2 separate regions of the Homo sapiens genome follow, and region 2 is linked to region 1. Evidence: fine-mapped expression QTL. Tissue or cell type: nucleus accumbens. Region 1 holds a variant in brackets; the other region holds the start of a gene. All regions are shown on one strand. Distances are from middle to middle.

The links. PIP is the estimated chance that this variant, and not a neighbour inherited with it, causes the effect.
Region 2: it holds the start of LINC02518, and the variant in region 1 is fine-mapped to the expression of LINC02518 in nucleus accumbens (GTEx, PIP above 0.99). The same link has a PIP of 0.9 or more in caudate, prefrontal cortex and putamen.

The regions. Positions count from the first base shown.
Region 1 is chr6:113,592,882-113,600,990 of GRCh38, forward strand. No RefSeq gene overlaps it. Among named protein-coding and RNA genes, the nearest start is that of LINC02541, 53 kb to the right of the region's middle. RefSeq lists an enhancer at 4,022-4,201. The variant G/A (reference allele first, on the strand shown) is at 3,437.
Region 2 is chr6:113,429,939-113,438,047 of GRCh38, forward strand. LINC02518 (long intergenic non-protein coding RNA 2518) reads right to left here and starts at 3,509. Exons shown (of 2, transcript NR_149098.1): 1 at 3,399-3,509.

The sequences.
Region 1 (8,109 bases):
TATATGTCATAATATATGTATCAACTTCAGAATGAAAGAGCCACTTCTTAGTCCCAGAAACAATTGTCATTCAACTAGAGGCTCTGAACTGTTGTTTTCCCCTTTGTGTTTGTATGGATTTAGACTGGGTGATACATTTTGAGGGTGGTATTTTTTTTTAATGAGGCTGATAATACAGTTCTCTAAAGTTTTCTGGTTTAGGCCAATGTTTTAGACTAAAGAACTCAGTTTGTGCCAACCGGAAGTGCTATGCAAAGCTGTCTGGTAGAGTTGACAGAACTCAGGATTTGGAGTCAAAAGACCTGGGTTTGAGTCCCAGATCTCCCACCTTCTTATAAGTCACCTGGTACAGGCACATCTTAAAGGATTTCTGGGAGGAGTAACTAGATTAATTTATCAGGCAATGGTAAAGCCAACTGTATTAGTCCGTTTTCATGCTGCTGATAAAAACCTACTCCAGACTGGGTAATTTATAAAGGAAAGAGGCTTAATGGACTCACAGTTTCACATGACTGGGGAGGTCTCACAATCATGGCAGAAGGCAAAAGGCATGTCTTACATGGTGGCAGACAAGAGAAAATGAGAGATCAGAGCAAAAGGGGAAACCTCTTATAAAACCATCAGACCTCATGAAACTTATTCACTACCATAAGAATAGTATGGGGGAAACTGCCCCCATGATTCAATCATCTCACAATGGGTCCCTCCCATAACCCATAGGAATTATGGGAGCTACAATTCAAGACGAGGTTTAGGTGGGGACACAGCCAAACCATATCAGCAACCTGTATTTTATAGTTGGAGTCTGTTTGTATTGATTGATTGCTATAATGATTGTTAAATATTAAATATTTTGAGTTTTACCTTGCATGAAGCACAAAGGAGATGCCAGTTAAGATTTCTGCCTACCACTAGCAGAACCTTTGCAGACAAGTCTTGCTGCTGTAAGCACAGATTTAATTGTTGGTTACAATATGGAAGATGTTATTCTAGAAATGAACCTTTCTGGGGTCATAATGGCTTTGAGTTCTTTTCAAGTAGGTACAAAGATTTAATGCCATGCTGTATGAGAAGCAAAGTCATTAGGTTGGGCCCAGTGGTTCTCAGTCCTGGCTGCACATAGAATCACCTGGTGTATTAGTCAGGGTTCTCTAGCGGTACAGAACTAATGGAATATATATATATAAAAGGGAGTTTATTAAGTATTAATAAACTTAATAAAGGGGAGTTTATTAAGTATTAACTCACATGACCACAAGGTCCCAAAATAGGCCATCTGAAGGCTGAGGAGCAAGGAGAGCCAGTCCGAGTTCCAAAACTGAAAAACTTGCAGTTCGATGTTTGAGGGCAGGAAGCATCCAGCACGGGAGAAAGATGTAGGCTGGGAAGCTAGGCCAGTCCCTCTCTCGTTTTTTTTTGAGATTGAGTCTCGCTCTGTTGCTCAGGCTGGAGTGCAGTGGCGTGATCTTGGCTCACTGCAGCATCCACTTCCTGGGTTCAAGTGATTCTCCTGCCTCAGTCTCCCAAATTGCTGGGATTACAGGTGCCCACGACTATACCCAGCTAATTTTTGTACTTTTTAGTAGAGATAGGGTTTCACCATGTTGGCCAGGGTGGTCTCGAACTCCTGACCTCAGGTGATCTGCCCACCTTGTCCTCCCAAAGCGCTGGGATTACTGGCGTGAGCCACCATGCCCGGCCTCCAGTCTCCCTTTTTACATTTTTCTGCCTGCTTATATTCTAGCTGTGGTGGCAACTGATTAGATTGTGCCACTCAGATTAAGGATGAGTCTGACTTTCCCAGCCCACTGACTCAGATGTTAGTCTCCTTTGGCAACACCCTCACAGACACACCCAGGATCAATACTTTGTATCCTTCAATCCAATCAAGTTGACACTCAGTATTAACCATCACACCTGGGGAGCCTTTTGAAAACACTTGTGCCTGCACCCTACCCTAAACCAAAGAAATCAGAATCTATCTGTGCAGAGTCATGGGAAATCTTCCCCAGGTGATGTCACTGTCCATCCAGAATAGAATCACTGCAGCTAGACATCTATTCTCATTCAGTGCATGAAGCAAGTACCTGGCCCTACAGCTCCTCTACCAGCAGACATTGTGGCAGGTGTCCACTTTCTAGATGAAACTTTCCTTATAAAAGACCTACTGTAGGCCAGTAGGTGGCTCACACCTGTAATCCCAGCAGTTTGGGAGGCTGGGGCGGGTGGATCACTTGAGATCAGGAGTTCAAGACCAGCCCAGACAACATGGTTAAACCCCGCCTCTGCTAAAAATACAAAAAATTAGCCGGGGGTGGTGGTGGGTGCCTGTAATCCCAGCTACTTCAGAGGCTAAGGCAGGAAAATCACTTGAACCTGGGAGCCGGAGGTTACAGTGCGCTGAGGTCACACCGTTGCACTCCAGCCTGGGCAACAAGAGTGAAACTCTGTCTCAAAAAAATAAAAAATGAAAGACCTACTGTGTATGTACCATCCATAAATCCAAGCAAGAGAGGATGCTGCTCTGCATCTTATAAGGGAGCAAGCAACCTGGCCTTCTTTCAACAGCACTTCTCTTCATGAAAAGGAGAGTCCACGGGGCCAAAGCGATACCCCCACCCCACCCCAAACACATCCTTAATCATGCTTTGAGTTCCCAGGACCCTAAAATTCCCTTCCCAATCAACTAAAACCAACTTCTTAGGACCTGACTAGGCACACCTTTAGGCCAAGGGATGTCCCAGAGGTGGCTGTTGATGAGGGTGTTAATGCAGCTTGGACACGTGTGGTGGAGTTTGAGAGGTCCCATGCATTGTAGGATGGGGGTAGGGTCTGAAAAGATGGGGGTAGACCCAGGACCTAGGGCAGTGGGCCAGGCAGTGAGAGGCCCGATTTCCCTGGCCATCCAATTCCAGGATGAAACTCCAAGGAGTCAGGGAACTCTAAATTCAAATCCAGCCTCTAGATAGTTAATGAAAATACATTTGTCATGAAGGGAGGGTAGAACATATTTTATGTTTTACTTAAGAATGTTCAAGCTTGCATCATAACTTTTAAGTATTTAGGCATATGGCTTGTGGGCCTCCGTTTGTACTCTTGCCCTGGGCCCTGCAAATGTTAGGGGCGAGCCGAAAGGACACATCTTTGCCTCACATCCCTCCGGGATGTTTGCTTATTTGAAATTAGCAGCCATGGAAGCTTTCCAAGGCTCTTTGAATGCAATGAGAATGTGGTCCATCAAAAATGCTGTCTGATTTTATTGCACATGAGAAGTTGTTAACTCTGGCAGCCCAGCCAGATTCTTGTATGTTCTCATTGTCCCTTAGGCCTCCCCAGCCAAATCCTAATGGGGTAATGAGTCTGTGCCTATGAGATTTGAGGGAGGGGCTGAGGGAAGTGTAATCAAGCAAATCACAAAGTGTTGAGCTTAGAGAAC[G/A]GAAGGCCTCCGTTCCTTTGACTTCATTTTCAATTCACTTAATTTCAGGGTTGGATCCCCCCCACCCCGCCCCTTTGGCAGTGAAAAAGAAAAGGAATGTTCTCTGTTTTTCCTCTTATAAAACCTGGAGCATAATAACTGCCCTGGACTGTTAGGAACACGGTGAGGAGGATCTCAGAGAACAGGGACTGCTTATAGCCTACATATGAAATTGTATAAGCAATTGTCGTTTTTCCCCCATTCATTAATCTGGCAGGATTTACTAAGGGTTTTAGAAGGGAAACATGGCTGTTTTAAGAGAAACTACAATAAGGAAATGGTGGGGGTTGGGCAGAGAAGGCCAAGGACAGACTTGAATTCACACTTTATAAATCTGGCACGGTATATGTGAACTGCTTCATGAACTGGCTGATATCAGGCAAATAAGAAAGTTAAAGCAAACCAAGAGCTATGCTCAAGCAGTCAGTTCTCCCAGCAAATTAACCAGGCACTTTCAGGAGTATGAAACTCCAGAATCCAGGCAAATGGCACAGAGGTCTCTGAATGGGTCTCAGCAGCTGCCAAGGCAGCTCACACATCTTGCACACCAAAGGAGTCACTTACCCTCTTGAGGAAATGAAAAGTCCCTAAGACCAAGCCTCTCTGGAACATGTCATAGGCCCTGGGAGAGCCCAGGGATAACCTTTAGGGTTAAGTGTCCCCATGATGCTGCTGGTATTTCAGTGAGAACAGGCAGGCCGGAAGGAGGCTGGTGTGGGAAGCAGCCCTCACACAGATGTTAGCATAAAAGAGCTGTTTACTTGGTGATTAGTATCATGAAATGAAAAGCTCAGGTTTCAACTGCTTAGGGAAGAATGATTATTTTTCTCACTGTGCAGCCTTTGCCGTTGGCACAGAGAATGTATTCATCAACGTCCCAGGTGTCACTCTTGGGCAGGTGGGATTCCAGACTCAGGTTGGGCCATCACCCCTGGCCCCATCTGGAGAGACATGGGGACTTGCTCAAACTTTTGTATTTATGTAATGAGTAAGAGGCTGAATCCCAGAGGAGTTACCCCTCAGCCAGGCTAACCTCAGAGTTCTGCATTTACCATGGGTACATCACCACAAAACAGTGACCAACACTACCTCGTTCCTAACTTCCCCAGAAGGGCAAGGGTGAAATGGACCAACTTACAGATTCATGGGGTTTAGAGAAAGAATTAATCAGCACCCTCTTTTTATCACCAACAGGCCTACCCATGGCCAATACATCCAAATTGTGCACACTGTGGAAAGATCACTCTCTTAGTGCCTCAAAGCTTAGAATCAGTTTTATTAAATTATTCTAACATTTCCCCCAAAGAAGTATGAGCCAAGAGGCAGTTTATTTTCTGGAAAAAAAACATGCACTTTGAACATAAAGGGCTCTTGGTTTGAATACCAGTTCTTCCACTTACTAGTTATGAGATCTTGGGTGAGTTATTTAAGAATTCTGCATCTCAGTTTCCCAATATATAAAATAGAGATAATAATAGCTACATCACAGAACGATTATGCAGATTAAATTAGATAACTCCTGATAGGCACTCAATACAAGGAAGCTTTTATGAACAGGAAATGTGCTTTTCAGAGAAGCCTTTACCTCCCTCCCCATTGTAAGGTCTTCGAGTTCAATAGCAGCATCTGGGGTGGATTCTCCTCCAGAGCTACAGTGCTGCCTCCTCCTTTCCAAATGAATAAATCTGGTTGCTCCCATTGCATATATCAGTGTCTAAATAAAACTTTCGGTGAAAATGATTTCAAAAAACAATCTGAGGGGCTAGATGTGGTAGTTCATGCCTATAATTCCAGCACTTTGGGAGTCCCAGGTGGGTGGATCACCTGAGGTCGGGAGACTAGCCTGGTCAACATGGTGAAACCTCGTCTCTACTAAAAATACAAAAATTAGCAAGACGTGGTGGTAGGCACCCGTAATCCCAGCTGCTCAGGAGGCAGAAGTTGCAGTGAGCTGAGACTGTGCCACTGCACTCCAGCCTGGGTGACAGCGAGACTCTGTCTCAAAAAAAAAAGTCTGAGGGATTGCTTCTTGCCATCTCCTTCCTACCATCCCACTCTACCTTCCACGTTGCATCAGGAAAATAGCATCTGGGGAAAGAATGGGAGACTCAGCTTTTCTGGGAAGTAGTGATGGGCAAAGGCAGTTGAAGGCTGTGACCTTGAAAGGACATCAGAAGCTACCCAATAGAAACCCCTCTGAAGCTGAACGCTAGATGATAACAGAATGGCTTTTTTTAAGACTTGTTTCCTTACTAGCTTCAAGGCTGCCCTAAAGGCAGACCAGAAAGGGGCAATTCTTACACCCAAGGCCCAGGTGTGAACCCAGCATCCTTACTTGTAATTGCATGTATGGTAATTGTCTGTCCAGCGTATCCCAACCAGAGATGCATACCATCTTGCCTCAATCCCGTTTCCAAATTCTTTTCTGCATATAGAATACTATATCTCTACTGCCATGTAATACTTGTTATTATCATTAGGCCCAATTATCACTGATACCACACAACAGTATTTTTTAAAAGTCTTGATGTTATAATGATGGATGTTATGTTTTGGCACCGCTCTTCTGCCTGATCTCATACAGAACTTCTCACATACCACAGATAAGATGCATGAATAAATAAATTGCTTTTAATGCTGGATGACACATGGACTGAGTGTGTAATGGCAGGTCCATGAACAGGAAGGTGGGGAAAAACATGTGTGGAGAGACTTAGACAGATAGAGTGCTTAGAACCAAAAATAGGTAGTTTAGAATTACACAAGCATCCCTGATCTCTTCACGACAATAGGGAATTTTTACCTGTTCTTTGTCTCACGTAGCTTATAGATCTACCAGAAATTCCTGGAGGTGAACTAGAGCAAGACATCCTTCACTTTTCCTTCCCGGAACTGAGTTCACACTTTGCCAACATGAAATTTTGGTTTGCTGTTGGAAAGAATCTATGTTAATGGTCCCAATCTTAACAAAACATGCTGTCAGAGGAGTTTGGGAATAGAAGGGAAGAAAAGGGTGGGCCCGGCTGTGTGGCTCTTCAGCCTGAGCCCTGTGGAAAAGATTACCATCTGGAGACTGTGACCTCTTAGCAAGTGCAAACATCATTTAACTCTTTAAAAGCAACTAGAGCATCCATCATCATTCTTTAAAACAAACAGAAACCAAAAACCAACAAACAAATATGAATCCCTTACTTTTGCAGGCACTGTGCTTTGCAAAGGGAATAAGATAAGCCTCTCAAGCAATGATTCACAGGAAAGAGAAGAGAATGTTACAGTCTCCATGGGAATGATAAAGGAGGTAGGGGAGGAGTCTGAGACCACAAGTCCCACACTTCTTCAAAATGCCCCTGGCCACTCTGCCTGAGTCTTAGCTGGCCTGTGAAGCCCTTACATGGCTCCTGGGCAAGTGCTATGCAGCATTATTGTTTACAACATGTTTATATGACCACATTAAGAGTAGAGTCATTATAGAAGGAGCAGGATTAAAAATAAATAAATAAATAAATAAATACAAAAGAGTAGGACCAGCCAGCTGGGCAACTAATTGTCACTAATCTATAAAGGTCACCAAAATGTTACAGGAATCAATGTGCACTGATCTCATTCCTAGTGCCCTTGAGAAAAAAAAAGAAAATACTCTTCACTAGGGCAAACTCACTTCTATTGAGTATTTTTTGGGGAAATAGTGGTGGCCATCAACTGAAAATTATGATCACAGATAGCTGAATTCTGACAAATTCTAGAACAAATAACTGAAGATCTACTGAAGTTGTTCATGGGTCAAATAATGGCAGAATCACTGTCCTGGAGACAGTCAAAAGGATATATCCCCTGGGAAGTGCCTACTGATGAAAAACAATAGACACAGGGGTTGAATATATTCCAGCTTTCCTAGTGGTCTTAATTAGTAAGTCAGTATGATTACATGGTCAATCAAATTGATTGTTGATTAGCTTAAGTGGCTGGAGGAAAAAAGCACATTGATTCTTTTCTCTAGGTGGTATTTTATGTCAAATAAACATTGTATTTTTCTAAGGATCTCTAGGAAATGAGATTTATTCTTGCTCTTTAATAAACTTTTCCAATGACTAAATGCCTTAAAATCCAAACATTATTTTGCACATTTTACCTAAATTTTCTTGGTGAAATGTAGACTTATTTTCCCTTTGTTTGAGATCACTTCTGAAATAGGGAGTCCTCACAGCTTCATTTATGACCCTGAATAAACTACCTGTTGATATGGTTTGGATTTGTGTCTCCACTCAAATCTCATGTGGAATTGTAATCCCCAATGTTGGAGAAGAGGCCTGATGGGAGGTGATTGTCTCATGGGTTTGAACTTCCCCTTGCCGTTCTTGTGATAGTGAGTGAGTTCTCACGAGATCTGGTTGTTGTGTGTAGCACCTTCCCCTTTGCACTCTTCCTCTTTCTCCTGCCATGTAAGATATTCCTGCTTCCTCTTTGCCTTCCATTATGATTGTAAGTTTCCTGAAGCCTCCCCAGCTATGCTTCCTGTACAGCCTGTGAAACTCTGAGTCAATTAAACCTCTCTTCTTTATAAATTACCCAGTCTCAGGTAGTTCTTTATAGCAATGTATTGATATAATAAATAATAAATACTCTTTATTAATAAA
Region 2 (8,109 bases), 160 kb before region 1:
TCGTTGGAGAGAAAACTCTAGCCCCAACTGTTTGAGAGATTTTGCCCAAGGGCCTCATTAGTAGTAAATTCAGGGTTAAGAATCCAACTCTTTTGCTTTACAAATCAGAATCCTGTCACTTATGTCACGATGATGCAGAAAAACAAACTAAAATTTGTCATTGCAAGATAATGAAACTCTCTCCTGAAAAAGTTATTTTGTACTAGACTGTTGCAATAGTGCAGATCTACTTTGATGTGTCAGGTTTGGCTCAAGCACCGTGCTTCCAGGGAGTTTTCTGGTGATCCCATGCTCTGTACCCTGCACCTACATCTGCTATGGGAGACCCTTCCTCTCCTTCCCCTCTGTATTTGTTAATATGCTCACACACAGCATTATAATCACTTTTGTACACCTACTTTCTCCACTAGATGTTAAATTCATTGAGAATATAATAGTATAAAATGAAGTTTGTTAAATGAGTAACGAATAAAGAAAATGTAATAATTCAATTTTTTTTCTTTTGAGGCAGGGTCTTGCTCTGTTACTCAGGCTAGAGTAGAAATGGCTTCATTAAAGCCTTGAATTTCTGAGCTCAAGTGATTCTCCCACCACAGCCTCCCGAGTAGCTAGGACTACAGGCACACACCATCACATCTAGCTATTTTTTTTTTATTTGTAACTTTTCATAGAGATGAGGTCTCTCCATGCTTCCCAGACTGACCTTGAACCCCTAGGTTCAAGTAATCCTCCTGCCTCAGCCTCCCAAAGTGCTGGGGTTACAAACATGAGCCTTCATGCCCAGCCTATTTTTTTTTATTTCAAAGCAATAAGAATAATAATGCCAGCAATAAGATTGTTGTGAAGTTTAAATGTGATGTTTTAACACTTGTTAAGTGCTTCACATAAGGCATTTAACCATGTCAAGCTACATATTAGTGTCTCAGTAGCATCTATCTATTGAATGCTTACTCAATCTTCTTCTGAAACCATCAAAAATTGTTACAAGCCTTCTATGTACTAATGATTGCACTTTTAGTATCCATTGATTAAGAAAGAATAAATTGGTGCTTGACTTTGCAACTCTGCAAATCTCCAAGGGTCCCTAACCCATAGGTGAGAATCTCATGAACTGTAGATTGTCCCAGGACCTAGAATGAAGCTTATAGTTCATCATGAGAGCCATTATGGCAGAGCAAAACACCCACAACACAAGCAAAGCACAACAGTCTGAGAGCAATAGAGGAAGGGACAATAAAGGAAAGACAGCAGGTCTCATTGCTTCCTACTCTTCAGAATCCCCACAGATTCATAGGTTATTGCCAGTATGCAGCTACTTCACCGTCTGCAATCCCTTGCTCCACAAAAATACCTACTGTTCCTAGGCAGCACCACATACATACTCAACAGTAGCTTGAGGAGGCTGTGTTAAAATAAAATAGACAGCCTGATTATGTTTCTTATGAACCTAAAGAATTCCAACTAGATTTCTTGTACTCTTTTTTTTTTTTTTTTCTAAACCTATTAGTTAGAACTATCCCAGTTTCACATGATGGAAATGCAACCTTAACTGTTTAAACAAACAATATGGAGACAGGTGTAAAGAATGTATTAATTCACTGAAAAGTCCAAAAATAGGATAGGTTCAGACACGACAGTGTCCAAGAACTGAAAAATAAGTCACCAAAACTCAGTTTCTTTCTCATTGTGATTTCCTCCAAAGTAGGTAATACTTTCAAACAGGTTCTCCCCACATGATATAAAGGTTAGCTGATAATAACCACAGCAGAAAGTAAGGTTCTTTCTCCCAGTGGCTTCCCAAAAAAATCCCATAATTGGCAGCCAGGTTTCTATGCTTTAGGTCAAAACAAATCACAGTGATGGAGGGGATATATTGTTTGGACCAACATAGTTTACTTGCGGGATACCAACCATTCTGCTTTATCAGGACTGTCCTGGTTTTAACATTGCAAGTCTTTTGTCCCAGAAAACTTCTCCACTTCAGGCAAACTAGGATGTTAGTCACCCCAGTTTACATTTGTGCTACTAGGCTACACATGTTTTTTCCATACTACGGCACTCAGTGGGCATAATAACAGGGATGAAATGCTAAGTGGGGGGAAAATGTCCTCTACATTGACCTGCGAACTATTGAAATGTGCTGACACGGTGGCCACATGTGCTCATTGAGCACTGAAATACAATGGTCTGCAATTAAGTTTGAGGGCTGAATTAAAATGTGCATTAAATATAAAATACCAACTAGATTTTAAAAAGTTACTAGAAAAAATAATGTAAGAGATATTAATAAATTTATATTTGCATGTTAAAATGATAATGTTTTGAATATAGCTAAATAAAACATTATTAAAAATTAATTTCACCAGTTTCTTCTTCCTTTTTTAATATGGCTATTAGTAAATCTTAAATTACACATGGCTCACATTATATTCCTGTTGGATGGCACTGTGATAAGATTTTTTAAACAAAGTTAATAAAGTATTTATGTCATGTATAGGCGGAGGACATTAAAAAGATATTTTGAGTATGCAGACACCTTAAACAATAAATGATAAACGAATTACGTAGAAAACATCCCAGGCCCACAAAAAATGAAGCACAATAATGTCAAACTCAATACCAAATTCATGTGCTCAATCATTTCTGTCCTCATTGGTGCCAGGACCAGCATAAGTTCTGGGGCTTCAGGCCCAACTGCCAAAAGAGGTTTGTCCTTCAGAAACCCACAGACCAGAAAGGAAAAGAGACAGGTTTAAAAAAAAGTTATACAAAATTATGTTGTGAGTAATACAATAAGTTCCAGCATACACAATCTGTTTTGATTTAATTATAGTAATTACATCATCTACATAATTTTTGGTTTATTCAATCCATACTCTACATGTTCTCTTTCTATTGCATGTCAACTTCCTTGAGAGCAGAAGTATTGCATTAATAAGTTTTATGCAACCAATTGCTTTTCTTTCAGTGCTTCCTTTTTATTTAATGATCAAATGTTTCTTCATCTCATATTTACTCTCCCCAGAGTCAGGTTAGCCCAGTGAAATCTAATGGGCTTAGGGTCAAATATTGCCAAAGTCCCTTACCAACTTGCTTACCTACTGGGAGTGTGTAACCCCTCTGCGCCTCATTTTCCACCAACAACATTGAGAAACAGGATACTCAGTGTCTCTTTGACACATACACACTCATATTCACACACACAAATTCAGATCATTGCTTGCAATTTAGCTTATTATTGTTAGTCATCTGAACATATCAAATACTTCCAAACACTCCAACTCACTGGAGTTTTGCTCCCTCAATATATCTATTTTTAAGCACTGGAAGGGGGTTCTACATGCCAGCAATTTGGTTCCCTCTAAACATCCTTGAAAATGTTTATTTGAAAAGATTACCTTGTTTTCCTTCAGGATTAAGACATGGTCACTGCAGACAGAGATGATTTGGAAAGATGGCAAGCAGTTTTTGATAGCTCCTCAGAGACTCCCCTTGTTAAATGAATATACCTGCAGAAAAAACAAAATGCATTCCAGCCCACACACGTTAGAGACATTTTTCAAACACCTAGATGAGAGAAGATAGCTATTACAAATAACATATTTGTTGGAGAGAGTGAAGAAATCACAAACTGGCTTGGATAAATACTATTAAATGCATACTTTGCCTGCCGATTGCGACAGTTTCCCTCTGGCACTCACTGACAAGCTTGGCTCCAGCTGTAAATTAGGTTGCAAAACTTCCTTGTCAGAGAACTCGCCCTGTGAGGAGGACTCAACCCTGGCTCTGAATCTGCAAGGACAGAAAAATCAATGTGACAGAGAAGCAGTTGCTTGTGTCAGGCCTCACCAAGGAGAGAAAAGGCTTTAAATTAATCATGATTTAAGGATGCTGGCAAAACAGTGCAAAGGCACATTCCTGGTGTCTCTGAGAAAAGGGAAAAAGGAGCCTGGAGCACTTTGCGGATGCTCCCCACAGATCCTGCCCTTCTGTTATAAACAGAATTCAGTGTTTACTGTGGGGATGAGAAAGCACTATGGATCTCGTGTAAACAGATAAAATGCAACAAGACTGATAAAAGTTTGGTGAAGCAGTATTGGTCAGTGTGTAGCATGGGGATAAATGAAAGTTTCATCTTCTCTCCTAGAACCTATGAATGAATTAAATCACCTGGGAGGATTTCAGGTCATATAGTAAATTTTGATGTCCCACAATAAGAAAAAGCTGGCTTGAACCTCTTATCTGGAGAGGGATCAAAAATCGCCTTCTGGAGATGCCTTTTTAAAAAATGTCTCACCTATGTTGGACAATGGGGACATCTGGATGAGGGAAATCAATTTTTTTGCCTGGCTTATGCTTTGGAGCAGTGGCTTTAAAATGTCCAAAAAGACCTACTAAGATTACTGTTAAACTGCCACCATTATATGGTACCAGTGAAGCAGTGAGCCCCCAAGGTAGAGGTAAGACCTACCTCAGATGTCAGTCACTGTTGGCCAAGGAAGATCATGTTAGGAAACATCCACCTCTGCTACCAATTTAGGCAATCGAGTCTCTGCACTAGAGAAAATGACATCCCGGACAGCTGATTTCAGACAGACTTTGTTCCTGTGTCAGGTACCACACCTTTCCAGTTTGGGTACAAGAACTCAAGTCAATGAGCCAGATTCATTTATTTTCATAAGTCGTCTCTGACTACAGGACCAGGGTTGCTCTGGGCCTTCGACTGGCCTCAACTATGTCAGTTGTTTGTCATGATGACACAACCATTATTCTCCAGTTTTTTCCCCTACAAGTGGAGAGACATCCAATGAGGACCAAACAGGATTAGACCCTATTGTTAAAAGTTTCCTTTGGCTTTATTTTATAGTATCATCTCTATCATCATAAATCAATCATGAAACACAAGATGTTCCACCAAGCACTACACAAGCGAACTACATAGATGTTGTACCTACCCACTAGGGCTTGTGATAGAAACGACAGAGCACTTAAACTATGCAAATATGACAAGTCCCTATAAACAACAGAGTACAGAAGTTAAATCAGCAGGAAATAGAAAATACAAGCATATGCAGAAAACTGAGTGGTAGGGATGAACAATACTGGTAAATATTATTACTATACACTTTTAAAAAAATAGGGAAATCTGAAATCCGAGATAAGAAAAAGAAAAAATTTATACAGCTATGCTGCACTAGAAACATGAACAGCTAACACATAGCCTCATTATAATAAAACCTTTTTGGCAACATTGGGTAACAAGCAGCTTCCAAAAACAACACCATTCCAATATTTTATTTAAAAAGAAAAAGAATGTGTAGCCATCAGTGCAATTTTCCTTGAAAATGAACAGGTTTCATTTGTACCAAGGGAAATTACCAGAAAAGCTGTAGACACTCCCTCTCAGGAGATCTTTATAAATAGTATAACTTTTCACCTGTTTTGTGTGGCTCTCTCAGAAAGCAGATAATAGGCAAGGAAATCCTTTCAAAATCCTCTTTCTGTGTCTCATTCTGGGTTATTCTCCAGTTATTCCACCTATTTGCCTTTGCCTCATCTTGCAGTCAACACTCTTGAGAAAGGACAGTTAAAAAGGAAGAAACAAATAGATGTCAGCACTCCTGAGAGAAAGCTAGAATAGCTAATAAATACACAATCCTTTATATATTCCAAGAGCTACTTAGTGCTCTACCGGAGTTTTCAAATAGAAGAAAAATCTGTTGCAATCTTCTTGTCTAGACCAAATCCATAGCCAACAAAAACCTTTCCATATGCCAAGTCCTAAGCTGAACATTTTATATGAGTGGTCTTATTCAATCTCACCACAACCCTATGAAATAGGCATTTTATTATTCCCATTTTATAGATCAGAAAGCAGAGTCTTAGAAAGATTTTCTTGCACAAACTAACAGAAGTGCGATCTGTTGGAGCTAAGATTAGTGTAATTAGTTTCCTATGGCAGCTGTAAAAAAATTATAATAAACAAGTGGCTTAAGATGACACACATTTTTGCTTGGGCCCAGGAGTTCAAGACCAGCCTGGGAAACATAGGAAGACCTCATCTCTACAAAAATAAAAAATTAGCCTCACGTGGTGGTGCACACCTGTAGAACTAGCTACTCAGGAAGCTGAGGCAAGAGGGTTGCTTGAGCCTAGGAGGTCGAGGTTGCAATAAGCTATGACTGTACCACTGCACTCCAGCCTGAGCAACAAAGTGAGACCCCCTTCTCAAAATAAATAAATGCATAAATAAATAACACAGTTTTTTTCTCTTACAATTCTGGAGGTCAGACTGCCAAAATCAGGTACAGTGGGCTAAAATCAAAGAACCAGTAGAGCTCTTTCTGGTGGCTCTGGAGGAAAATCTGTTTCCTTACCTGTGCCAGGAGGGATGCAGTCCTCATTCCTCAGCTTCTGGACTGGCATCACATCCCCTTTCCTCTTCCTGTTCTTTCGTCACATCCCCTTCTCGTCTTCATCAAATATTCCTCTGCCTCCCTCTTATAAGGATATTTGTGATGGCATGTAGGACTTACCTAGATAATCTAAGACAATCTCCCCTTCTCAAAATCCTTAATTACATCCACAAAATCCCTTTTACCATATAAGGCAGCATTCATAGGTTCCCAGAATTAGGACCTGGATACCTTTGGGAGCTGTTACTCTGCCTACCACAATTAGCATTCCAACTATCTCCCATTCTCTTAAGCAGTATACGATCTTTTTTTATAGATGAGTAATTCCTAAAAAGCTGAATGACTGATTGTCAGCAAGTGAATGGGTATCTCATATAAATTAAAGAGGTAAAAGTAAGTCATTTGTATGGATGGTAGCACAGTATTGGCAAGAACCCTGGACTTGCAGTCAGAAAATGGAGTTTGTTTTCATTAACTAGACATGCAAACTTGGACCAAACACTACATCTCTTGGTATCAGGAATAATAAAGAGTGCCAATTCTCGTCAATAGTAGTAGAGAAGGATTCCACAAATCTCTACAAGTTTCATGGGAAATGTTGGACCCAATTATCAGTGTCTGCCCTGCTTAATCCTTAACCGCCAGACCTTTTTTTTTTTTTTTTTTTTTTTTTTTTGAGATGGGGGTCTCCCTATGTTTCCTGGGCTGGTCTCAAACTCTTGGCCTCAAGCGATTCTTCTACCTTGGCCTCCCAAGTGCTGGGATTACAGGTATGAGCCACCACACCCAGCCTCTAGTCTTTTTTAACTCCAATTTTATATGATTCAAGCCAGGATTGCCATCATCTGCATGCTTGAATGCGGCTGGAGAATCCATTTCCAAGATGGCTTCTTCACGTGGCTATTGGTAAGAGGCCTCAATTTCTTGTAACTCAGGGCAATCCATAGGCCACTTGATTGTCCTTACAACATAGTGATTGGCTTCCCCCAGAGCAAATACTCCAGCAGAGAAAGCAAGGCAGAAGCTACAAAATGTTTTATGGCCTAGCCTTGGAAATGACATACCATACCATCACTTCTGTGCTCCATTGGTCATACACATTTATCCTTATACAGTGTGAGAGGGAGCTGCATCAGGTCATGGATACCAGGAGACAGAGTTGATCACCTAGAGGCTGATCGCCACAATAAACCATGTGGACTAGTGCTTCCCAATAGCACTTCCATGTTGGTGTATATCTAGAGACCTCATCAGTGTTGGAGAGAAAAAGTATTCTTTTCCTCACCTATAGGTGGGTTCACGGCCAAGATCAGTAAAACAAAACACAGATTTAAAGCATATGAATTTATCTAGTGTTAAGTTTCATGAGACACAGGAAATTTCAGAGATGAAGACCCAAAGAAACAGGGAAATCTGTGTGTTTTTATGGTTAGTCATCCAGAAGTATCATTGGAAGACAAGTAGGTATGACCTAATGGTAATAAATGGGGGAATTTAGCAAGGCCGGTTTGCTCAGATTCTGCGATATGTTTCTGTATCTTCACTCATTTCTTCTGGGCCTAGGGAGAATGCCTCTGATATGAGGGTCTTACAACCTACTGTAGATGTAGGTCAGAGAATTCTTTTATAGGATGTTTCAGGGGAGAATGTCCAGAGAATGTCAAAGAGACTTTTCCACTTCTGCTGTTTTCTC